Homo sapiens: one gene and its partners. The protein of the gene in region 1 interacts with the protein of each later gene in a pairwise test. Each region holds a gene or a part of one and is shown in the gene's direction. Other genes may lie near its edges. The genes, in order: ANXA7, TAF5L, CPNE2, HUNK, PAAF1, CCDC90B and KLHL23.

Region 1 (3,500 bases):
TTAGGTGTAGATCCAGAAATCCCAAAGTATTCTGGTATCAGAGTGTGAATCACAGACCTGCAGAATCCATATCACCTGAAAGCTTTAGAAATGCAGAATCTCAGGCCCCATCCTGGAGCTACTGAATTAAAATCTCTATTTTAACACGATCCCTAGGGATTCATATACACATTAAAGTTTGAGGCCAGGTACAGTGGCTCACGCCTGTAATCCCAGCACTTTGGGAGGCTGAGGCAGGCAGATCACTTGGGGTCAGGAGTTTGTGACCAGCCTGGCCAACATGGTGAAACTCCGTCTCCATTAAAAATGCAAAAATTAAGCAGGTGTGGTAGTGCGCACCTGTAGTCTCAGCTACTTGGAATGCTAAAGGAGGAGAATCGCTTGAACCCAGGAGGTGGAGGCTGCAGTGACCCGAGATTGTGCCACTGCATTCCAGCCTGAGCAACAGAGCAAGACTGTCTCAAAAAGAAAACATTGAGAAACACTATTTTAGTCAACTACGTTGTTCAAAGAAGGAAGAGAGGAGACTTGAGCTAGATAGGAGGGGTGAGTAAGCCCAGGCTTGAGGGCCAAGTCAGTTAATGATAAGAATGGCTTAAGCAAAGGAATGCTGGGAATGGTTCAAGTGATAGAGATTTCACGTTGAGGGTTAGGTGTTGGTAAGAAATGAGTTAAATAGATAAATAGAGGGTGGGTGTGGTGGCTCATGCCTGTAATCCTAGCACTTTGGGAGGCTGAGGCGGGTGGATCTCTTGAACCCAGGAGTTCAAGACCAGCCTGGGCAGCATGGCGAAACCCCGTCTTTACTAAAAATACAAAAAATTAGCCAGGTATGGTTGTGTGCACCTGTAGTCTTAGCTCTTCAGGAGACTGAGATGAGAGGATCATCTGAGCCCAGGAATTCGAGGCTACAGTGAGCTGATGTCACACTACTGCACTCCAGCCTGGGCGATAGAGCAAGAAACCATCTCAAAAATATATGTATAATAATAATAATTGGAGCCAGTACTAAGGAGACCTGTATATCAGGCCAATTAATTTTCATTTGATACTCCAGCAGTAGTCATTGATGATTTTTGAGCTGAAGAGCAATTTGCTGAAAGAGCAGCATTTTAGGAAAGTTTAGCTAGTGACAGTGTCTGAGAAAATTGGGAGGGTGACAGAGTATAAGCAAGAATATAAACAGAGGAGGAGTTTTAGTAAGACAGGCATCAAGTGATGAAACTTGGTCTAAGTATATGACCATGAGAACAGAAATTACAGAAGAGGCATTTCAAAGGATGGATAGAAAAACACTGGTTTTGGCCGGGCGCAGTGGCTCATGCCTGCGATCCCAGCACCTTGGGAGGCCGAGGCGGCCAGATCACCTGAGGTCAGGAGTTCGAGACCAGCCTGGCCAACATGACGAAACCCTGTCTCTACTAAAATACAATAAATTAGCCGGGTGTGGTGGTGGGCGCCTGTAATCCCAGTTACTCAGGAGGCTGAGGCAGGAGAATTGCTTGAACCCAGGAGGTGGAAGCTGCAGTGAGCCGAGATTGCACCACTGCACTCCAGCTGGGGTGACAAGAGCGAAACTCTGTCTCAAAAAAAAAAAAGAAGAGAAAAATACTGGGTTTCTTACTATACTGGAGTATTAGGTAATTTAAGTAGTGGTGCTATTGACAGATAAAGGATGTTAAGAGTGGTGTGGTGGAGAATGACGAGTATTTTATTATACACATACAGAAAGCCTCCTGATTGACTTCTGTCTTAATCTGCTCCTTAGTCTATTTTGGTGATCATCCGTCTCACAGTTACGTCTCACCTTTTGCCTTGCAAATAACATTGTTCTACTTTCTTGCCTATCTGTGTCTAGCACCTTTAAAAGCCTGGTTTAAACCTTTGATCATTCACTCTCCACTTGTAGCAATGTTTTCTTGTAGATGCCAAAAAAGTGATTACTGACTTTATATAGATGTATTTGCCAGGTATATTATATCTGATCACTAATAGTATTTTAGATTTTTTTGTTGTTGTTGAAATGGAGTTTTGCCCTATCACCCAGGCTGGAGTGCAGTGGTGTGATCTTGGCTCACTGCAACCTCTGCCTCCTGGGTTCAAGCAATTCTGCCTCAGCCTCCTGAGTAGCTGGGCTTACAGGCACATGCCACCACGCCTGGCTAATTTTTGTATTTTTAGTAGAGACAGGGTTTCACCATGTTGGCCAGGCTGGTCTCGAACTCCTGACCTCAGTTGATCCGCCCACCTCAGCCTCCCAAAGTGCTGGGTGTATTACAGGCCTGGGCCACTGCACCCAGCCTTTTTTTTTTTTTTTTGAGACAGTATTGCTCTGTGGCCCAGGCTGGAGTGCAGTGGTGCAATCTTGGCTCACTGCAACCTCCACCTCCTGGGTTCAAGGGGTTCTCCTGCCTCAGCCTTCCAAGTAGCTGGGACTACAGGCACATGCCACCACACCCGGCTAATTTTTTGGATTTTTTATAGAGATGGGGTTTCATTGTGTTAGCGTGGATGGCCTCAATGTCCTGACCTTGTGATCTCCTCAGCCTCCCAAAGTGTTGGGATTACAGGCGTGAGCCACCGCGCCCGGCCCTAATTTTTGTATTTTTAATAGAGACAGGGTTTCACCATGTTGGTCAGGCTGGTCTCTGACCTCAAGTGATCCACCTGCGTTGGCTTCCAAAGTGCTCAGATTACAGGCGTGAACTACTGCGCCTGGCCGTGTTTTAGATTTGATCAGGCTAAGAGGGTATTCTTTTGAATGTTTGTTTTTTTCTCTGTTTATTTACATTTGCTTTAGGTTAATAGTGTTTTCTTCAAATGCAAAAGATATATATATATATATATATAGGGATATTTGTCTTTATCCACACTAGCTCCATTTATTTTACATGAGCCATCTTTTCAACAATGGACAGGAGAGTGTAATGAATCCCCATGTACTCATCACCCAGCGTGAGCAGTTATCAACTCCTGACTGCTTATTATGTCTAAATTCCTGCACTATATTATATAGAATATTCCTGCATATTATTTTGGCATAATCCCTGACATCGTATCGTTTTGTTTGTAAATACTTAATGTGTATCTCTAAAAGATCAGAATACTTGATGAAAATCATAGTACCATTATCACACCAAAAAAATAGTAATGTCTTAACATCACTTGATGTGCAGGTTATTGTTTACTTTTCCAAATGGAAATGAGCACCTTTTGAAGAACATAACTTTCAAACTTTCTGGTACAGACTGCAGTTTTTAAAAGATATTTCCAGTGTTATGTTTGCTGATCAGAAGACTATCAACTTTTGATCACCATTATTATCACAGAATAGATAATATATGAATGCCTCCTTAATCTCAGACTAACCACACTCTACCACCCTACTTTCTTTTTCCATCAGAAAGCATTCTAATTTTAAAATTATTCTAAGTCTAATAAAATTGAGAAAGTAAATGTACTGAAAGTGTTATAATGAATTAATAAAAGCCAAACTTCAT
Region 2 (3,500 bases), on another chromosome or scaffold:
GTCAGCAGCCTGCCATCACGTATTTCAGGGTTGGATCCACCCATTATTCCTTGCCTTCAAACTCCTCAGAGATACCCTTGACCAAAACAGGGCCAGATGATGGCCTTGGTATAGAATACTAAGTGCCTTATTGTTTGAATAGGGGAGTCCATTTACAAGGCCTCTGTCCCATTGTAGAGTAATTCCTTCTGAACATGCCATCCTAGCCATTTAAAAAATCTGCTGCCCTGCATCCTTTGGAACCAGAGAGCAGTAATTCTTGCTGTTGTTGATAGAAAGTAGGAATGAACAATATTAAACAGACTTCCAGAACTTTGCTCGTCTAAGTTGTCTTAGTTTCAATAGAATAGCTTATTAGGAGAAAGTGTTATTGCTGGAAAACCACCAGGAAAAGTGAGAAACATGAAATATGATTATCAGAAGATTTTGTCCTAGATTTTTCCATTAATTGAGTAATCTGAAGAATTCTTTTTTCAGCAGACATTTAGTGAACATCTGCTATAGGCCAAGTGCTGAAAAGTTCTAGAGATAGCTACGATTTGACCCTAGCTCTGAGAAGCTAAGTGTTCTAATTGGGAAGTGAGGCAGGTAAGTCAGTGATTGTAGAAGAGCATGAGGTAGTAAGTTCTGTGAGGGGGAGGTTCAGTGGTAGCAGAAAAGATCATCCAAATTAGGCTGGCAAGCCAAGGAAGGATCCCCAAAAGGCCTTGTGATTCCTGACATATAGTTGGGGGTCACTAAATAGTTGAAAGAGTGAGCTGAGTTGCAAAGGAACCATTAGATGTTTACCAGGGAACAAATTGGAGGAGGGTATCCAGGTTTTCAAATGTGAATTTTAGAAAACTCAGTCTGGTGGCAGTATTGATAAGGCAGCCCAGATTAGAATCGAGGAAACTAGTTAAAAGACGCAGTCCAGTGAGAAGTGAGGACAGCCTCAGTTGAGGAAGTGGTAATGGGAGTGGAGAGGAGAGGATATATTTTAGGAATCTGTAGGACTTAGTGACAGAGTAACTAAGCGGGGGGCAAGAAGAAGGAGGAGGAGTCCCTCCCTTGCATGCAGGCTTGCAGCAGGTCCTCTCTTCTGACTGTCTCTTCCTTCTCCTGGAGTAGGTTGGCTTTCCTCTCACCTGTGTTTCCCTTTCTACGTATTTCCTGTTATGGCGCCCTCAGTCCTGCCACATTCATCACCATTTCTCCATCCATATTCCATTGACAAAATGCATTCATGTTTCATTCAGGACGCGGTTAAAGGTGGCTTCCCTTGGTTTTTAGCCACCTTCTTTCCCCGGTGTTCCCCACTCCTCTTGTAAACAGGAGGAGAATGGTTTTTGTTTTTTGTTTTTAGAAAGCATAAACTCACAGATTGGAGATTAAGTGTGTGTTTACATACTGAATATTGAGACTCCAGCCTTGTTTCCCCTGCACCAATTCATATGCCCGGAATACTGCAGCCAGGCACACATGCTCCAGGAAGGCAAGTAAACAATCCTTCCCTGGTGAGTCCAACTTGCCCAAGAAGAAAGACGAAAAGACAGTGATGTTGGGACATTGCTCACCCTGGTCACCCTGGAGGATGAGCCTCACCACCCAGAGTGCCTCACCGTAAGACAGCCAGGGGCCATTGAACCCTAGAAGAAACATATCTCATAAGAAGGGCAGATGGAAAGAAACAGAAGAAAACTTCAAAAATACCTTGTTTTAAATACTTAAGATTCAAAAAGCATAGCGTGTTTAGGGGAAAAGAGAATGTTGAGAATGAAAAAAGTTACCAATTAGATACATGATAGTAAAAAATAAAAACTCATTAGGTATTATAAGTAATGTAGGGGGAAATAGTAGAAGGGCTGAAGGGTGAGGAAGGCTTTCAGAAAGTAGAGCAAAAAGACAAAGAAATGGAGTAATAGGAGAAAAAAATTAAAGGATTGGTTCAGGATATCCGACCTTGAAATTGTAGGAGTCTTGGAAGATAGGGAATTATCAAAATGATTCCAGAAAACTTCACAGAACTAGAAGACATGAATTTCCAGATTGAAAGGGCCCACTAAGTGCCCAGCACAGTGATTGACAATGAACCCACACCAAGGCACCTGTGAAATGTCAGAACATAGGATCAAACATTTCCTGATGAATCTCATGGATTGATGTACCTGTCCTCTCTCATTCACCTTATCCTGTGCTTTATGCCTTTCCTTCCCTGGCCTTCATTTTATTGGGCTTCAGGAGGGAGGGGAGAGAAACAAGTGTCATCAGTCTGTCATGTTTAACCAGGACCCAGCATGCTTTGGAAACCTGCTGAAATGTCAGTTGCTGTGCGTGTGTGCACAACACCCTCCTTCACCCATCCTGCCACGTACTGGGTTAATAATCGTCTCTCTGTTTCCCGCCCTGACTTGTGTATCTTCTCCTCTTTAGTGCAATCAGAATCTGGTTGTGCCAACATAGTGTCTGCAGCCCCTTGCCAGGCAGAACCCCAGCAATATGAAGTACAGTTTGGACGACTGCGGAATTTTCTCACTGGTAAGTACTCAGCTCTAGAACCTTTTCTTTTTAAGAAAACAGAGTAATACAGACCAACTTTGGGCACACTGCTTGTGAGTTAGCCCTGCTCCACAAGGAGCGGTAAAAAGAAAAATTAAAAAATAGAGTAATGCAGATTTCCCTCAGAACCAACTATATTCCACAATTGGTTTGAGGTACTAGGGATTCGAAGGTACTCTTAACACAGTTCTTGCATTCAAACTTATGGTCTATTGGAATTCCTGAAGAGTTCAATCACGAGGTTTAAGTTTACAAGGGCAGAGCTCTGGGTGTTTATTCACTGTTTTATTCATGGCCTTCAGCACAGTGACTTGTGACTTGTATTGAATAAGTAAAAACTGTCAGCTATGCAGAGAAGCATCCTTAAATACAGCACATTTGAAATGTACATGACATCTCTACTAATAATATAGTACATTTCACAATGGTCTTTGCCCCGTATTTCCAAAAGTGCAAGTAAATAGTCCTTATGAATGAACAGGCAAAAATGCTAGAAGTTGTCATTTAGACCAGTTTTTGAGTGGCAGAATGACCACTTGAGATAAGAATAAAAAAGATACTGTAGAACATTAGGAAGAAAAACATTAAGAGCCCCAGAAGATAAATCGGAAAGGGATGTGAACATAAAAATTTACACCAGGATAACTCACTTTAGCAATCAACCGAGTGTATTAATACTTCACTGCAAAAATCATTACAGTTCTGTAGCAATAAAATTATGCCATTGAGTTTATTTTATTATACACCTATGCTTCAGTGATTAAAAAAATACAAAAATGTATGTAATGTCATTAGGGTCATCTGAGTGTCACTCATAATAGAAATAAGTCATGACCATGACAAGAGCCATCTCACTGTCATGAGTCAGAATATACCACTATTAAAATTATACATTTGGTGATTTACTTTTGTGTCTGTTTTCCTCATTAGACTATATGCTCCATGAGGGCGGGGACCATATC
Region 3 (3,500 bases), on another chromosome or scaffold:
GCCAACATGGGAAAACCCCATCTCTACTAAAAATACAAAAATTAGCCGAGCATGGCGGTGCACGCCTGTAGTCCCAGCTACTCAGGAGCCTGAGGCAGGAGAATCACTTGAATGTGGGAGGCGGAGGTTGCAGAGCCCAGATTGAGCCACTGCACTCCAGCATGGGTAACAGAGCAAGATTCTGTCTCAAAAAAAAAAAAAAAAGTTATAGGCCGGGCGCGGTGGCTCATGCCTGTAATCCCAGCACTTTGGGAGGCCAAGGTGGGTGGATCACGATGTCAGGAGATTGAGACCACCCTGGCCTCTCACGTGAGGCCTCTCACCCACCCTCTCACGGTCTTTAGTAGAGACCGTCTCAAAAAAAAAAAAAAATTATAAAATAAAATCAAATAAATAAAAAATAAAAGCTCTTGGTCCCCAGGGGCTGGGTCTGAGAGCAGATGGGACTGGGGAGACAGCTAGGTCAGGACAGAGATTCCCAAGTAGGATACCAGGAATCTTAGGTTCTAGTACTGGGTCTGCTACTGCTGCTGTGAGACTTTGGGCAGGTACATCTCTTTCAGGGCCTCAGTTTACCCATCAGTGGGATGGGAACAATAATCCCTGCCTTCCTCCTAGGAGGGCCATAGCAGCTCAGACAGCATATAAAGCTGTGATTTCTGTGCTCATCTCAGAAAAAAATATGTCTAGAGAGGGCCCCAGGCCATAAGCTGGGTGGGTCACAACCCGAGGTGGAGGGGGAGCCATTTGCCAGGTGTATAAGGAGTGGAGTTGCCTGCACTAGAGGGTACAGCCTCCATCAGTGGGGCAGACACACTTTCTCCTTTTCCCAGCAATCACAGAAGTCTTCCTGCAGGAGGCAGTTCAGGAGCTATCCAGGCCAGCTAGGCAGATGCTGAGGAGAGGCACTACCCAAACAGAAGACAGAGGGTTTGCTTGGGGAGTTGAGAGGGGCTGGAGAGCACCTCTTGGGGGACAGCTCTGGGGTGACCGTGCTGAACCCACCCCAGGTCATGTGCTACGACTATGACAATGACGGGGGCCATGACTTCATCGGCGAGTTCCAGACCTCAGTGTCACAGATGTGTGAGGCTCGAGACAGCGTCCCGGTGAGATGGGCACGTGTACTGTAACCCCAAGACCTCAGCAGGGCTGGGGGAAGGGGCACCGGGTCTTGGGTCAGGCAGCCTGGGGCTGAGATCCCCCTTCTGGCTGCATGACCTTGAGCAAGGCATTCAATCTAAGACTCAGTTTCTCCATCTGTCAATGGGGGCAGAGGATTTGGGTGGGGATTGAATGAGATGATGCAGGCGAAGTGCCCAGCATATAGTGAGCAGTCAGGAGCTATCCATTTAAGTCATTCCGTGATGTTGGGCCCTCAGCTGGACAGTTTGGGGGTGCGTTATCTGGGGAGGAGGGAGGCAGATGCTGATCCTGCTACCATTTTTGGGTGTGGACATCCTGGGAGGCTCCCTGGAGGAAGCATGCTGCCCCCATTGTCAAGCCTGTGGAAGGGATTCTAGGGCCAAGGAGGAGGATCTGTTTCCAAAGAAGCCCCGAGGTGAGTGTCTCTTTCTTTTGCGTTGCCCAGCTGGAGTTCGAGTGCATCAACCCCAAGAAGCAGAGGAAGAAGAAGAACTATAAAAACTCGGGCATCATCATCCTGCGATCCTGCAAGGTGAACCAGCGTGGGCAAGCACGAGCCAGGGGCCAGGTTTCAGGCCACACAGAAGGGACAGACAGAGCACTGGATCTGGAGCCAGCGAGGCCTGTGTTCAAATCCCGGCTCTGCCACATCCTGGCCCTATGGCCTTCTGAGCTTCACCTCACCAGGCCTCAGTCTCCTCATCTGTGGAATGGAGATATTAACGAGGCAGAGCATGTCCAGGGTTACTCTTCTCTCACATTCCTGTGTGGAGGCCAGGGAAGGCACGAGCTGACCTTCCAGGGCCTGTCCTGGTGGGAGAATTGTCATTGCGAGTTGCTGCCGCCCACGGTGGGCATGCAAGGGGCAGAGGACATTGGGTGGGGACACCCTGTCCTCTCTGGCATCAGCGTCACTGTGACTCCCATGGTACAGCCGGGGCCACTGAGGCCCAGAAAGGCAATGAAGTTCATGTCAGCAGTGGCCAGGCTGTGGGTGGGGGCCAGAAGACCTGGTGGGCAAATAACTGCTGGATCTGGCAGAACATTAAGGAAGGCAGCCTGGGGCAGGAGAGCAAGAGACCTGGGCTCAGGGCCTGACAGCTCAGGAGTCTGGCCGCTGCTCTCCACCAGCAGGTGGATCCCAGACTCCCACCTTATTTGGAGCCTCGTCTGGCTAGGGTTTACACGAACATTCAGTGGTGTCACGACAAAAAAGCACTCCGTTAAAGGTCAAGATGTCAGGTTGCAGCCTTGTGATGGATGGTCCTTGTTTCTGAAGTTTCCATCATTCACATCACTTTTCACAATTTCTGGCACCTGCCTTACTTATTTTTTTGAATCAGTCTTTCTTCCCTGTATTATTGTTTTTTGTTTTTGTTTTTGAGACAGAGTCTCACTGTGTTGCCCAGGCTGGAGTGCAGTGGCGTGATCTCAGCTCACTGCAACCTCCGCCTTCCAGGTTCAAGGGATTCTCCTGCCTCAGCCTCCCAAATAGCTGGGATTACAGGTGCATGCCACTACGCCTGGCTAATTTTTGTGTTTTTAGTAGAGATGGGGTTTCATTATGTCGACCAGGCTGGTCTTGAACTCCTGACCTCAAGTGATTTGCCTGCCTTGGCCTCCCAAACTGCTAGGATTACAGGAATGAGCCACTATACCTGGCCTGTTTCTTTTCTCTTTTTTTTTTTTTTTAACTTAAATACATTTATTTAGAAAGAGATTATTAGAACTCTACCAAAATTAAAAGATCTGCCTTCTTTGCCAAAAAGAGACAAAGACCATCAAAACAACTTCTAGAGGAAGGCCTTGAGCTGGAGGCCTGCTCTTTCTCTTTGTTAAAAAGGTAGATTAATAAGGGCCAGGAGAAGGTAAGTACCTAACAGTGACAAATTGAGACACTCTGTGTCAGGTAACTGACACTGGGCCCTGGCACCCTGCCTGGAACCAGCATGTGTCTGTGTATCTGTGGGGTGTGGGGGTCTCTGTGAGTCCCCCACCCATTAGGAACCATTGCACTGAAGGCTTTGTTATAGAGAGATTTGGGTTTTGTTGTAATTAGATCAGGCCCATCAGCTTTTTTTGACCTCCTTGTCCCTACTGAGGTTGCAGGACATAGAGCAACAACTCCCCCATGGGGAGTGTGACCAAGTCAAGGGGACCCACTGACTCATCCGCTTTCTTCCAGATAAACCGAGACTACTCCTTCCTTGACTACATCCTGGGAGGCTGCCAGCTCATGTTCACCGTAAGGCTCTCCCCGCTGGCTCCCTCTGCACCCCCATCCCAGTGAGGGTCCTCCCTGAAGACTTGGGCCACTAGTGCAGCCAGAGGGACTTAGGGTAGACTTCAGGAAG
Region 4 (4,025 bases), on another chromosome or scaffold:
ATGAACGTTACTGAAATAGTCAAGGCCGGTGGGAGCAAAGAAGTCCCTTCAGCACAGCAAGAAAAACATTTTAAGCTGTATCTTTAATATTGGTAAACGGGAACAATGAGACAGAACAACAGAAAACGCAGTATGTTCCGTCATAATAACTGAGGCTGGTGACTTGTAACAGGTAGGTGGATGAATATAGTAGCGTATTTAAAATTAGATGTATTGAAAGCAGGCATTTCTCTGCGTCCCTCTTCAGATGGGTCAGCGAGACCCCCAGACACTGGATTGATGACAGCTGTTGTTCCCCCACCCCCCACTCCCAATCTCAAAGCATTGCTATGGGTCGATGTCATACTTGTTTACTCAGGAATAAACAATGAAAGGAACTTTGTTAGGACCAAATCCTTCCTTTCAGCTCTGATGTTGCATGATCGGGGTGAAGTTTCCATCAAATGCGGGCACCTCAACAGGTAGCATTTTGTAAATGCCTCCTCCTACCTACCCTCCTCCTTCTCCCTCACAAGATTCTTCATTTTCGGTTTGAGAAGACGTTGGGGATCCTGGGAGAGGGTCCAGTGTCGTCAGGGCAGTTGCAATTGTTTATGCGATGAGCACAGTCACAGCGCTTGCAGAACAAAAGCATCGAAGAGAGGCGAGCGCCGGTCCACCTCCTGCAATCACAGGCATCATTTCAATGGAAGGCAAAGAAGGTGTAAGCTACAAGCAGAGGCAGCAAACGCCCTGGTTCCTACATTGCTGCTGCTACTATTACTGCTGTGGCTGCGCCTCCTCCAACACAGCCAACCAGGCTGCGTGCGAGCCCGGGCAGACGCCTGGCCGCCTCCCCACCCTTTCTTCCAGCCATCCATCTATCCTTCCACCCCCGGTCCAGGGGGCCCTACTGTGTGGCGGACTCAGGGCCGGGCACGCAACCCGACTCACAGTCCACGGAGTTCGAGAGCCTTCCCCCTTCCCCCCGCCCCGGGTGGGTGCGGCCAGTGGGGGATTTCACCGCCGAAAGGTCCAGAAAACCCAAGCCCAGAATCCGGGCAAGAGGCGCAGCCGGAGGCGGCCCGACCTGGGCGGCCCGGGAGCGCGCGCCTCCGAGGCCGCGCAGGTTCTCCCTGTCTGGCGCTCAGGTGGCTTCTCCGTCCACTCCGCCGCTCCCCTCCCCGGGCCCTCCCCTCTCCAGCGAGGGTCGAGTTTGACTGTGGCGCGCGGGGAAGGAGGGGCTACTAGGGATTTGAAAGTGCACGGGCTGCGGAGTGGAGCTCGCATCTGTTCCCGCCGCCCGCGAGCGGATTAAATTTCTGCAAATTCAAACTGAATGGGGCTTTCTTCTGCTGCCTTCCAGAGGGCGCCGGCAGCCCGCCGCGCGCTTCTCTCCGGCGGGAGCGGCCGCCCAGCGCACGGCTAGGAGCGATCGCGGGAGCCCGACCCAAGCCCGTGCGGGCCAGACGGCGGCGGCGAGGCGGAGGCTGCGGAGGCACCCGGGCTCCCGGACCCAGGCACCCGGACCCCGGGACCCAGGCGCCGCCGGACCGCGCCCCACCCCGCGCGCCCGAGCAGGGCGACTGTCATTAGCTTCCTGGACGGGACCCGGGGCGGGATCCTGGTGTCCTGAAAGGGGCCCGGGCGACCCTAAGAGGAAGAACTTTTGGGGGCGGGGTCCCCGGTCCCGCGTCCCCTGGGCAGCCGCTATTGTCTACGCGCCTCGCTGGGCGGCGCGGGGGGCGTGATCGCGGCGGCCCCGGGCTCTGGGTGCGGAGACCCAGGCGGGGCTGGGCCCAGGGCGGCGGCGGGAGAAGCCGGGGAAGCCGAAGAGCCTGGGGAGGAGGAGCTGCGAGCGCGGGAGACGAGCAGGAGCCGCGCGGGCCGCGGCGAGCGCGATGCCGGCGGCGGCGGGGGACGGGCTCCTGGGGGAGCCGGCGGCGCCTGGGGGCGGCGGCGGCGCGGAGGACGCGGCCAGGCCCGCGGCGGCCTGCGAGGGAAGTTTCCTGCCTGCCTGGGTGAGCGGCGTGCCCCGCGAGCGGCTCCGCGACTTCCAGCACCACAAGCGCGTGGGCAACTACCTCATCGGCAGCAGGAAGCTGGGCGAGGGCTCCTTTGCCAAGGTGCGCGAGGGGCTGCACGTGCTGACCGGGGAGAAGGTGAGTCTCCCGGGCGCCGTGGGGCTGGGGCACAGGGGCGGGAGTCGGCGGCCAGGACCCCGCGGGGAGCACTGCACTGGGAGTCCCAGTGTGCAGTCCCGGGCCAAGCGCCTTCCCCCTCCGCCCGGCTTTCCTGTTGGGTTAAAACGCGCGCTCAGCATCTCGCAGCCTTTCCCGAAGGCGGCCTGCGGTCCGCTGCCCGGGGGTTGGGGGCTTGGGAGGGGACGGCCTTGCCCCGGGAAGCGTCCCGCGCGGCCGTTCTGCTCGTGGAAGGGCGCCGCCTGGCGACACTAGCGCGGGGGGCGGGATGGGGCCCCTCTGCCCTTCAGGCCGGCAGGGGCGGCGGATCCGTGGCGAGGCGGGAACCAGGGCTAGAGGAGGTGGGCTCTTATGTCGGGGGGCGGGGGGGGCAGGAAAGCTAACAGCCAGCCTCTGGGGGGAGCTTAGAGTCTGATCCCCGTCCTGGGCTCTCGGAGGAGGTGGGAGAAGGCTGAGATCCTGCATTCCTTCCCACCTGTGGGCTCCGGCAGCTAGGGAATGTTTTTTGGCAGCTAGGGAATTTTTCGTGCTCAGAGGAGGGTTTTTGCCTCCGCCCTCCACTTGTCCATCCCTCAACCTGTGCTCCTCTCTATCCACTCAACCCTCCCACCCCTGCCCCCTCATCACCCACCATTCTCATCCCCGCCATTCTCATCCCCTTCTCTCCGTTCCCCCAGCTCCTCTGTGCCCTCCAGCCTCAGGGTGGGAGCTGCAGTGAAGACCCTGCTACTGGCAGGAACAGAACTACAGATACCTCCCCCCAGAGACTGGGAGATGCCTTCTTATCTTTCTAGAAGAGGGGAAAGGAAAGGGGACCTCCGCGAGACCAAAAGGGGCACCTCTCCAGCCTTGTTGGAAGTTAGATGGTTGTGAACCCTTGCCAGGCGAGGGGCAGGTAAGATGGAAGGTGTAACTTAGAGCTGTGAGAAGAAACCCAAGAGCTTGGTGACTCGCTTTTGAGGCCGGGTCACCCCAGGCTGGAGCTGCCCGAGCTCAGAGCCAATCCAGGCTGGAGCTGTCCCAAGCTCCTGTCATCTCGGGCTCAAGACTGCCCCCAGGCTGGGGGTGGCTCAAACCTGGAGGGGGACCAGCTCCTTTGTGTGGTCCGTGGGTCAGGGAGGCGTCAGCCGCAAGGAGGGAAGGCGGAGTTCACTTCCCAACCGAGCAGGTGGCCTGGGAGCCGAGCCCTCTGCCTTCCGACCTGGGGGCCTCTGCCCAGCCTGGGGCTGCCCTGTGAAACCCCTGGTCACAGGGCCAACCTGCCCTTCCTGCCTGTCTCTAGCCTCACCCCACCTGTAGTTCCCTCCCCACCCCATTTCCCCTCTTTGTCTTGGAGCCTTTTGCCTGTGAATGCAGGTCTCCGTCACCCTTGTCATTTTCCCTGTGTTCCCTACAGCCGTTTTGAGTGAGGCACCGCTTTATTATGGGTATGTGGGGATAGAGTGAGTAGTTTTTAGAAGTGCCTCCTGCCTGAATTCCCATGCAAAAAAGGAGCGTTCAGTATGAACTTGAGTAAGTCTTCAAAGAAAAAGGAAAAACCTCCAAACCTCGTTCTAGTCCGCAGGAGCGAGGCACACTTACACTCCTCGATTCGATTCGATTCGATTCGTAGTGAGCTGTCTGACTTCCACACTGCGGGTCCGTTCAGGGCGCGAGGATGCGGCTAATTAGAGTGAGCTCTCTTCTCCTGGCCCTGTGTAAATTCCTGTTGGCACTGGCGATGGAAGTTTATTTTCATTGGAAACGTATAGGATTCAGGCTGGTTGTGCATATTTCCTCTCTAAACATAACGGAAAGAAGCGAGTCTTTATGCTCACAACGTCATGGCAAACACTGCAAGTACAT
Region 5 (3,500 bases), on another chromosome or scaffold:
TCACTTAGTATAATGTTTCTTTCTTTCTTTTTTTTTTGAGAGTCTCACTGTGTCGTCTAGGCTGAAGTATAGTGGCACAATCTCGGCTCCTCACTGCAGCCTTCACCTCCCAGGTTCAAGTGATTTTTGTGCCTCAGCCTCCTGAGTAGTTGGGATTACAGGCGCCTGCCACCACACCCGGGTAATTTTTGTATTTTCAGTAGAGACGAACGAGGTTTCGACATGTTGGCCAGGCTGGTCTTGAACTCTTGGCCTCAAGTGATCCTCCCACCTCGGCCTCCCAAAGTGCTGGGATTACAGGCAACTTAGTATAATGTTTCTATTTGTTGTTTTTATCAGTACTTCGTTCCTTTTTGTGGCCCGGTAATACTCTGTTGTATGGATATACTACATTTTGTTTATCCATTCATCAATTAATGGACACATATTTCTAGTTTTTGGCTATTATGAAGGAAGGAGATTTTGATGGCAGGATAGATGGCATGAGAACCAGCTGCTGTGGGGAATGGGAGGGGTGAAAGGATTACAAAACTGCTGAGTTTAGAAACATGAATTGGATTGGTGACAGTCGGCACAGTTGTGTTCTTTTCTGGAGCAGTACTCAGCAGCCTGCATGTAGGAATGTAGAAGGTAAGTGGTTGGATTGATCCTAGTTCTGCTATTATATAGAGAAAACCAAGGCTGAGGTCATTTTAGTGACTTCACAAATGTAGAGAAGTCAGCTGGGCAGGGTAACTCACCCTGTAATCCAAGCACTTTGGGAGGCTGAGGCAGAAGGATTGCTTGAGCCCAGCAGTTCGAGACCAGTCTGAGCAACATAGTGAGACTCTGTCTCTACTAAAAATAAAAATAAAAAAAATAGCTGGGCATGGTGGCATGCAGGCTACTCAGGAAGCTGAGGCGGGAGAATCCCTTGATTCTGGGAGATAGAGGCTGCAGTGAACCATGATCATACCACTGCACTCCAGCCTGGGTGACAGAGCGAGACCCTGTCTCAAATATTAAAAAAATACATATATATACATCCACAAATGTGGAGAAGTCATTGAGTGATTGGTTGAAATGATGCACCATGAGGGCCAGACTTCTTAAGGCAGTTGGTAAACACAATAGGGAATCATGGAGTGGGATAAAAAGTGAAGTTGCTTCAGTTCTGTTTTTGTGGCATCTTTCTGAAATAGTGCTTCATGATACTTCCCTGTGAAAAGCGTCTTTACTAGGTCTTCTCTAGGCCAAACTTCTACCCTAGACTTTGAGTTTCTCTGGGATTTATCCCTCAACTATCATTTCCATGACTGCTATTACCAAACTGGTGTATTAATTGATGAATCCTTCCTTCTTGTTCTTTTTGACTTTCTTTTATTCTTTTTTTTTTTTTTGAGACGGAGTCTCGCTCTGTCGCCCAGGCTGGAGTGCAGTGGCGGGATCTCGGCTCACTGCAAGTTCCGCCTCCCGGGTTCACGCCATTCTCCTGCCTCAGCCTCCCAAGTAGCTGGGACTACAGGCGCCCGCCACTACGCCCGGCTAATTTTTTGTATTTTTAGTAGAGACGGGGTTTCACCGTTTTAGCCGGGATGGTCTCGATCTCCTGACCTCGTGATCCACCCGCCTCGGCCTCCCAAAGTGCTGGGATTACAGGCGTGATATTCTTTTTTTTTGAGATGGAGTCTCACTCTGTCACCCAGGCTGGAGTGCAATGGCGTGGTCTCGGCTCACTGCAACCTCTGCTTGCCAGGTTCAAGGTATTCTCCTGCTTCAGCCTCCTGAGTATCATAGCTGGGACTACAGGCACGTGCCACCACACCTGGCTAATTTTTGTATTTTTAGTAGAGAAGAGGTTTCACTATGTTGGCCAGGCTGGTCTTGAACTCCTGACCTTGTGATCCACCCACCTTGGGCTCCCAAAGTGCTGAGATTACAGGTGTGAGCCACCATGCCCGGCTGACTTTCTTTTATTCTTGATATGCTCCTCCTTGACTTGGAGTTTTCTTTTCCCTATTTTCTTCCTAGCCAGCTCCTATCTTTCTTTGAGGCTCCTATACTCTCTAGAAAGCCCTCCCGGCCTGGTCGTGGTGGCTCACACCTGTAATCCCAGCACTTCGGGAGGTTGAGGTGGGTGGATCACCTGAGGGGAGGAGCTCAAGACCAGCCTGGCCAATATGGTGAAACCCCGTCTCTACTAAAAATACAAAAATTAGCCAGGTGTGGTGGCACGTGCCTTTAATCCCAGGTACTTGGGAGGCTGAGTCATGAGAACTGCTTGAACCCAGGAGGTGGAGGTTGCAGTGAGCTGAGATCACGCCATTGTACTCCAGCCTGGGCGACAAGAGTGAAACTCCATCTCAAAAAAAAAAAAAAAAAAATCCCTCCCACTCTTGTGTGAATCCATGATGATTTCTGCTTCTCTCCTGTAACTTCAGTTTGGCTCAACATTTATTTACTGAATAATAAATGAATGTAGCACCCTGCTAGACTTAAGGACTTCACAGTCTGTTGGGCAAGTCAGACATGTAAACAGTGTGTTATGGGCTGTTATAGACATGAATATATAAGGTGTAGAAGAAGAATGGAAACAGTTTTTAACTTCATTCTATCATCTGCGTGTGTTTATGTGTAGGATAGTATCTTACTTAGCCCATATCTCTGCAAAATCAGTATTCTACTTAGGCAAATTTTACAGGTTACTGAAGCTTAATTCTTTACTATGTATTATGTGTATATACTGTAGATAAATACATGTATGCATACTGATCTTCACCTTTCATCCTGGAAGAATTACATTTCACAGCCAGTTACATCAGGTTGAGATCACTCTAAAAGCCCTCTCTACAAATGCTGTATCAAATCTCTAAATCTTTGTTCTTAGCTTTTAGTCTTGAAAATGTATTTTAGTCAGGCCAGGCGCGGTGGCTCACGCCTGTAATCCCAGCACTGTGGGAGGCTGAGGCGAGTGGATCACGAGGTCAGGAGATCGAGTCCATTCTGGCTAACATGGTGAAACCCCATCTCTACTAAAAATACAAAAAATTAGCCGACATGGTGGCGGGTGCCTGTAGTCCCAGCTGTTCGGAGGCTGAAGCAGGAGAATGGTGTGAACCCAGGAGGTGGAGATTCCAGTGAGCTGAGATCACGCCACTGCACTCCAGCCTGGGCGACAGAGCAAGACTCCATCTCAAAAAAAAAAAAAAAAAAAAAAAAAAGAAAATGTATTTTAGTCTTGAAAGTGTATTCCCTTTCAAATTAGAGTTTAGTGCTATAGTGTGTATGTTTGACCCCTCCAAATCTCATGTTGAAATTTAATCCTCAGTGTTGGAGGTAGGGCCTAATGGGGGGTGTTTGGGTCATGGGGGCAGACCCCTCATGAATAGATTAATGTCCTCCCTGGAGAGTGAGAGTGACTGAGTTCTCACTCTGTTCTTTCCTGAGAAAGCTGATTGTTAAAAAGATCCTGGCATCTCCCTTCTCTCTCTTACTTCCTCTCTCACCATGTGATCTCTGCA
Region 6 (3,500 bases), on another chromosome or scaffold:
GCCTAGATTTTGCTGATTTCATTCATCCTGTCTGGATAACTTCTCTCAGATTTAATATAGTTCTACCATCATCCAAATAGCCATTCTTGATCCTTTATTCTCAAGGAGGGCCAAATGCTTCTCCTTTGTATTATTCATCATTGTGTATACATAATGCCAAGCACAGTGCCTTTCATTCAGCAAGTATCTATGGAGCATCCAGAATTGTGTAGGCATTGGGGATTCAGTAGTGAGCAAGAACAGATGTGGTCCCTGCTCTCAAGGACTGTATAGTTTAGTGCAGGGGTTGACAAACTTTCTGTAAAGAGCCTAATAAATATTTCAGGCTTTGTAGGCTGTAAGGTCAGTCACAACTATTTGCTTTGCCACTGTAGCATGAAAGTAGCCATAGATTAATCCATAAATGAATGAGCTGTGTTCTAATAAAACTATCTAGTTCTAATGAATAAAACTAGAAAAACAGGCGGTGGTAGTCTATGGGCTATAGTTGGCTGACTGCTGGTCTCTTGGGGAGACAACTGAGAGTCACATAAATGTGTAAATTATGAGAGGGTTTGCAAAAGAATCCTGTGCAGTACTATGAAAAACCATCATGAGAGAGACATAACCTAAAGGAGTCATCAGGCTTTCCAGAGGAAGAAACATTCAGACTGAGCTCTGAAGGATAAACATGAGCAGGCAAAGAAAAGGAGAGCTTTCTGAACAGGGCAGGGGCTAGGCAAAGGCCCTGAGAAGGGAAAGCACATGGCATGTTTGTGGAATTAAAATCAAAGAGCCCTTGAAAGCAGAGGACCAGAGAGAGCATAGTAGGACATGAGACGAGCTGCACCCTACAAAGATTTATTGGCTTGTTAAGGTATTTGGTCTCTATCCCAAATTTAGCAGGAAGCTGCTGGTATTCAGAGTGTTTGTTGACTAAGTCAGAGGAACTGTACTAATCTGCCTAGCTATGAGACCATAAGATCTCAGACTAATTACAGACAGTCCTCAACTTAAGATAGTTTAACTTAAAAATTTTTGACTTTACCATGGTGCAAAAACAGTGTGCATTCAGTAGAAACTGTACTTTGAATTTTGATCCTTTCCTAAGCTAACGATAATGCAGTATTCTTGCAATACTGGGCAGGGGCAGCAAGCCGCAGCTCCCAGTTAGCCATTGATCACAAGGGCAAACAACCAATACTTAGTATTGCCAGGGTTTTTGGGTTTTGTTTTTGCATCCCATCGTGTTTACAAAATGCCCATCTGGGTGTCTACATGAAATATTCAACACTTTATTATAAAGTAGGCTTTGTGTTAGATGATTTTGGCCAACTATAGGCTAACGTAAGTGTTCTCGACAAGCTTGAGGTAAGCCAGGCTAAGCTGTGATGTTCAGCAGGTTAGGTGTATTAAATGCATTTTCAGCTTAGGATATTTTCAATTTATGATGGATTTATTGGGACATAACCCTTTTATAAGCTGAGGAGCATCCATACTTAGCCCTGAGCCTCAATTTACCTCATCCATAAAATGAGAATTTTAAGGATGGGGTAATAGATGTGAAAACAGTAAAATATTATTTAAATATTATTACTGATTTTTTTTTTCTAAATCCAAATAAACTTCTAATCAGGAATATGTAACTAAGAGTACCATCATTACTCCTAATGCAGTTGTTATTGAAACTACTGAAATCTGCCCCTTTTTCCTCTAATTTTTCTTTTTCTCTCCTACCTTAGGTCTGATATTTACACACAAAGGCATAGTTCTTTACCCTTCTAGATGACATTCAAGTGAAAAAGATTACTGACCAGTGTACTAATATGTGTGTTTTTAAAAATTGCTCCACCTTTATTTACAGCTACTTGCTTTTATCTCTTCAGTTAAATAGAATTTTTTGGAGTATTTTAATGAATCTTTTATCATTTGAATTTAGAGTTTATTGTTAGATTTTTTAAAAAAAACAATATCTGTTTCCTGCCTTCTAGTCCATAAAATCAGTGAGAATATCATTTATGTCTGGTTTTGCTTATGATTTTATCCCCTATGCCTGGCACAAGTTCTAGCACTCAATCAATATTCATTAGGCTAGAAGGATATAAAGAAGGAATCACATTTGTCCTACACAGTACTAGTGGAAAAATAATGCCTGAAGTTGCAGCCTTTTAAATATCTAGATATTTTAAGTGACTTAAGATACATAAGAGAGACAGCATGGAGTGTAAGATTTGGAGTCAGAAGTACCTGAGTCTGAATCCTAATTCTGCCATTGGCTCTGTAAAGGTAACTCCTTCACCTTCCCAAAAGTTGTTTATGGGCAGGGCACCTTGTAATAAATTCATCAGCAATATATAGAAAAGGTCTTTACTGTGTCTAGGTTAAAACTTGGGGAATTTATTGAAATAGGACAAGAAGGGTTATTTCAGAAATGAGAAATTTTTCTTAGGGTTCTTATGTTGATACCAGTAAATACGTCCATGATTTCAAATCAAATTCATTGATTGAATCAACAGTAAAACTTGGTGGCCCAACTATGTGCCAAAGCACTGTTCTACGTGCTAAAGATACAGTAGTGAAAACCACAGTCAAAGCATCATGGAACTTCCATTCTGATCCAGAGATACAAACAGCAAATAAGATAATTTCATGTTGGAGCTGAGAACTACGTAGGAAATAAACTGTGGATATATAAGTGAGTGGGAGTATGGAAAGCTACTTTAAACAGGGATTAAGTGTAAAAAATTTTCATAGCTCTTTGAAAGACTATTACTGAGCACAGAGAAGAATTGAATTGTGCAGTTTCTGCTTTTCAGTAATTAGAGCTGAGGTGGTGATAACCAAAGCATTTGATGTGTGTTTTATTACAAGTTTATACTGACTCTTAACATTTCTGAATACCAAAGGAGGGAAAAGAAACATTTATTGAATGTTTGGTGTGTACAGAAGAACGTCAGAGACTTTTCAGATAAAAGAGAGGCTCAGAGGAGTCAATTAACTTGGGTGAGATGACAAAACTAGAAGAGCTGGAACTATATTATAAATGGATGGGGAAAATGCTTTGTAAGCTAAAGTAGCTTTGTAAGCTATCAGTTACTACAAAAGAAAAAAATTGTCTTCTCTTTCAGAGTTCTTCACTACCACAACCAAGGAGGGATATGATAGGCGGCCAGTGGATATAACTCCTTTAGAACAAAGGAAATTAACTTTTGATACCCATGCATTGGTTCAGGACTTGGAAACTCATGGTGAGAAACATGGATACCTCCTGAAAGAAGAAAATTAATAGCACTCATAATGCCTAGTTAAGACAATATCACTATTATGAACAATCAAAAGTAACTAAATAGATGTACCATCCATACAATGAAATATTTTATAGTCACTAAAAATGATACTGTTTGAGAAATATTTACTGATATGGGGAATGTTCAAGATATGTTAATTGAAAAAAGCATATGAAATAATATGTGCAGAATTATTCCAATTAAGTGAAAAAAAACTAGAGTTTCTAGGTTAAA
Region 7 (3,500 bases), on another chromosome or scaffold:
AAACTCCTCCTGGGCTCAAGTGATCCCCTGCCTCAGCCTCCTAAACTTCTGGAATTACAGGCATTACTGTAGACTTTATATAGCTTATAAAAATACTTTCTTTTTATCCTTATTCTATAAGCTTTTTTTTTTTTTGAGACGGAGTCTCGCTCTGTCACCCAGGCTGGAGTGCAGTGGCACTGTCTTGGCTCACTGCAAGCTCAGTCTCCTGGGTTCACGCCATTCTCCTGCCTCAGCCTCCCGAGTAGCTAGGACTACAGGCGCCCACCACCACGTCCTGCTAATTTTTTGTATTTTTAGTAGAGACGGGGTTTCACCGTGTTAGCCAGGATGGTCTCAATCTCCTGACCTCGTGATCCACCCACCTTGACCTCCCAAAGTGCTGGGATTACAGGCGTGAGCCACTGCGCCCGGCCTCTATAAGCTTTTTTATATTATATATATATATATATATATATATAACTTATTTATTGATTTTTTTACTCGTTAAACTTTTTTGTTAAAAAAGTAAGACACAGACATACACATTAGCTGAGGCCTATACAGGGTCAGGATCATCAATGTCAGAGTCATCAATATCACTGTCTTCCACCTCCACATCTTGTCCCACTTGCAGGCTTTCAAGGGCAATAACAGGCATAGAGCTATCCTCTCCTATGATAATAATGCCTTCTTCTGGAATACCTCTTGAAGGACCTGCCAGAGGCGTAGATTTATTTACAACAGCATCACCAGAAACACATGAGAATGCTTTATGCCATGTCTTTAAAACAGCTACCACAGTATCACTAGGTGATAGGACATTTTCCACTCCATTATAATTTTATGGAGATCATTGTGCGTGGTGCATGGCTGTGTTTGTGTGCACGTCTCACCCTCTCTTAAGAGCACAAAGAGCCTTCCTTTTTTATTCTTTTGTCCCTTATAGCACTTAGCACAGTACCTTGCATTTTACCATCAGTAATAACAAAAACAACAATAAATTTAGCCCAGGGTTCACTGCAAAAAAGAACAAAAGATCAATCTAAAGATGTGATTTTAATTAATACGTAGGTGTGGGAAATGCTACTGCCTGTGTCTTACATGATGTTATCTACGTCATTGGTGGCCACTGTGGCTACAGAGGAAGCTGCACCTATGACAAAGTTCAGAGCTACAATTCCGATATCAACGAATGGAGCCTCATCACCTCCAGTCCACATCCAGGTAACAAAAATACTGTCTCAAATAGTGTATGTTGTGATGTAGTTTAGTAGCATAAAGGATGGCTAAAAATGGACTGGAAATAGAAAATGCTGATTTTATTGTAGACTACACATGGGTAGAATTAAAAGTCTCAAAATATTCATATATGTCCATCTAACAATAATCACAATGAGATTCTGATTGGGTCACATCTACAAATATTTTCCCTGATGTCTTTATACAATGCACATTGTAAGTCTGTGTGGTCAAAAATATTAGCGTCTTTAAAATTTTTTTCCTTTATATGCCATCTTTCATTTATGACATTAATTATATAAAATACAATGTTCATAAGTAGTTGAAAAGCACCATTCTATCAAATAGTCAGAAAGGGTACCCAGTGATTGAAGTTCAGCTAGAAATTGTTTCCTGTTTTAGAAGCATGTTCTTTCTAGGTTTCACTTACTATTAAGCACTCACTCCTACAATGTGCAGAGCCATATGTTGGCCTTACCTTAACACTCATACAGGGAACATGCTGTCTGCCCATAAGGAATGGCCTACCTTCTTGGATGTCTTCTGTTCTTTGACTTGTGTCTTTGTGAAGAGCTCAGAGGGAAGCACAAGTTTTAGTCTGTTTCAGTTATGCCATAGGTTTAAGTTGTTTTCATTAGGAAAGATTCATATCATCGTACCACCATGTTACCTTGAATCATTTTCCATAGAGCATCAGGCTTCCATGTGGGTCAGTGGAGGGGGTAGTGGAAATTCACAAGCTGGAACCATCTGAGAGGACTAGTAATACTTACCATAGATCAGGCACTGGCTAAGCACTTCATATGTGTATTACCTCAGATTCTCACTACAAGTCTGTGAGCAGGTATTGTTTGTCACCATTTTACATATTTGGAAATGGAGGCTTAGAAACAATAAGTAACTTTTCCAAGGTCACAGTTTCACAGTTTGAAAGTGGTAGACCAGGGTTCAAAATCTGACAGTCTGATTCCATAACTTGTGCTGTAGCCACTAAACAATCTGTCTCTCCTTCAGGGAGCAGACTCTCCTGCTTTCAACCAAGGCAGCTACTTCCAGCCCATACATCATCTATCCCATATGATGGTTAATCTGAAGCACACCTAAATCTGGTGCTGCATCTCCATATGCCCAGGCTTTGCATGAGAAGGAACTTTAGCCCCAGGCTTCCCTGGCTGCAAAGACACCATGGAATGGGTAAACTTCTCCCTCCTAGTAGCCCAAATGGACCATCCCAGACTCCCCACCACTTTCTGCTGTGATCAGTGAAGTTATAATGGAAAGGAATAGTAACAACTCACAGTGAGAAATAGCTAGCATTTATTCAGTCAGTGTGTGGCAGGCACAAACTATTCCAGTAATTTTACATGTATAATCTGTTTAAACCTCAAAATAATTCCATGAGCTAGGTACTGTTTTTATCACATTTTATAGGACACTGAGGGTCAAAGAGATTATATAAATTGCCCAAGGTTAGCCAGCTAGTGCTTATTAGAACTGAGGTTCAAACCTAGACAGACTGGCTTGAACTTCACTATTATCTCACCTGAACCTCATGTTACCCTTAGAAGTTAGATGTTACTCTGCCTATTTTGTGGATAAGCTTATCTTTACAAAGAAAATCCGATACATGAAAAGTCAGAATTCACAAATTAGAGGGCAGTTATTTATATTATAAATTTAATGTATATGTCATTAAGAGTTTCCCTCAAAAATAAGTTTTCCATAACAGATTTCATATAGCTTATTAACTACATGAAAAAGAGTCTGAGAGACAGTGTCACTTTGGACTTAATCCAAAGTATTAATAAGTCATGGCAAATTGAAAATCCAAAATAAATGTTAAATTATAATATAAATCAATGGTAACATAATATGCATCCACATGTAGTTTTGATTTACATTGAACTTTTTCCTGATGAAACATAAAAAACAGATTTTAAATCAGTACCTTGCATGATGTGTTCTGTTTAGCTTTCACAGTCCTTAAAATATTTTTGAACTGGCTTGTTACCAATATTTAAAATTTAAGAGAATTTCAAGTAAAAATCATTATTTCTGTCCTTTAAAAGAAAAGGGAAGACCTAGCAGCCTTGGATGTATTCCTTCTAGGCAGCAGTCACGGGAGCCAGGGGGTAGCTGTTCCCCTAAATGAGGCTTGTGTGCTCCGTTTCACCACAGTCCTTCCAATTCTCCTCACGTCACTGACCTAGGGGGCCTGTGCCGTTGTTTTTCTTGCTCCCAGCTGGCTTTGCTCAGCTAGTCTGTTAAATCCTTAAGCT

Evidence for each region.
Region 2: the proteins of ANXA7 (region 1) and TAF5L interact in a two-hybrid assay, tested with the Homo sapiens proteins (one large-scale study listed by BioGRID and IntAct).
Region 3: the proteins of ANXA7 (region 1) and CPNE2 interact in a two-hybrid assay, tested with the Homo sapiens proteins (one large-scale study listed by BioGRID and IntAct).
Region 4: the proteins of ANXA7 (region 1) and HUNK interact in a two-hybrid assay, tested with the Homo sapiens proteins (one large-scale study listed by BioGRID and IntAct).
Region 5: the proteins of ANXA7 (region 1) and PAAF1 interact in a two-hybrid assay, tested with the Homo sapiens proteins (one large-scale study listed by BioGRID and IntAct).
Region 6: the proteins of ANXA7 (region 1) and CCDC90B interact in a two-hybrid assay, tested with the Homo sapiens proteins (one large-scale study listed by BioGRID and IntAct).
Region 7: the proteins of ANXA7 (region 1) and KLHL23 interact in a two-hybrid assay, tested with the Homo sapiens proteins (one large-scale study listed by BioGRID and IntAct).

What each region holds. Positions count from the first base shown.
Region 1 is NC_000010.11:73,404,059-73,407,558, reverse strand, and holds part of ANXA7 (annexin A7), read left to right. Parts: intron 1-3,500. UniProt on the Homo sapiens protein: Calcium/phospholipid-binding protein which promotes membrane fusion and is involved in exocytosis.
Region 2 is NC_000001.11:229,609,123-229,612,622, reverse strand, and holds part of TAF5L (TAF5-like RNA polymerase II p300/CBP-associated factor-associated factor 65 kDa subunit 5L), read left to right. Parts: intron 1-2,412; coding exon 2,413-2,517; intron 2,518-3,500. UniProt on the Homo sapiens protein: Functions as a component of the PCAF complex. The PCAF complex is capable of efficiently acetylating histones in a nucleosomal context. The PCAF complex could be considered as the human version of the yeast SAGA complex.
Region 3 is NC_000016.10:57,120,083-57,123,582, forward strand, and holds part of CPNE2 (copine-2), read left to right. Parts: intron 1-1,010; coding exon 1,011-1,109; intron 1,110-1,591; coding exon 1,592-1,678; intron 1,679-3,331; coding exon 3,332-3,391; intron 3,392-3,500.
Region 4 is NC_000021.9:31,871,795-31,875,819, forward strand, and holds the start of HUNK (hormonally up-regulated neu tumor-associated kinase), read left to right. Parts: upstream 1-1,225; 5' UTR 1,226-1,880; coding exon 1,881-2,141; intron 2,142-4,025.
Region 5 is NC_000011.10:73,883,499-73,886,998, forward strand, and holds part of PAAF1 (proteasomal ATPase-associated factor 1), read left to right. Parts: intron 1-3,500. UniProt on the Homo sapiens protein: Inhibits proteasome 26S assembly and proteolytic activity by impairing the association of the 19S regulatory complex with the 20S core.
Region 6 is NC_000011.10:83,279,868-83,283,367, reverse strand, and holds part of CCDC90B (coiled-coil domain-containing protein 90B, mitochondrial isoform 1 precursor), read left to right. Parts: intron 1-3,107; coding exon 3,108-3,227; intron 3,228-3,500.
Region 7 is NC_000002.12:169,740,332-169,743,831, forward strand, and holds part of KLHL23 (kelch-like protein 23), read left to right. Parts: intron 1-1,053; coding exon 1,054-1,206; intron 1,207-3,500. Other genes in the region: PHOSPHO2-KLHL23 (kelch-like protein 23), read left to right, coding at 1,054-1,206.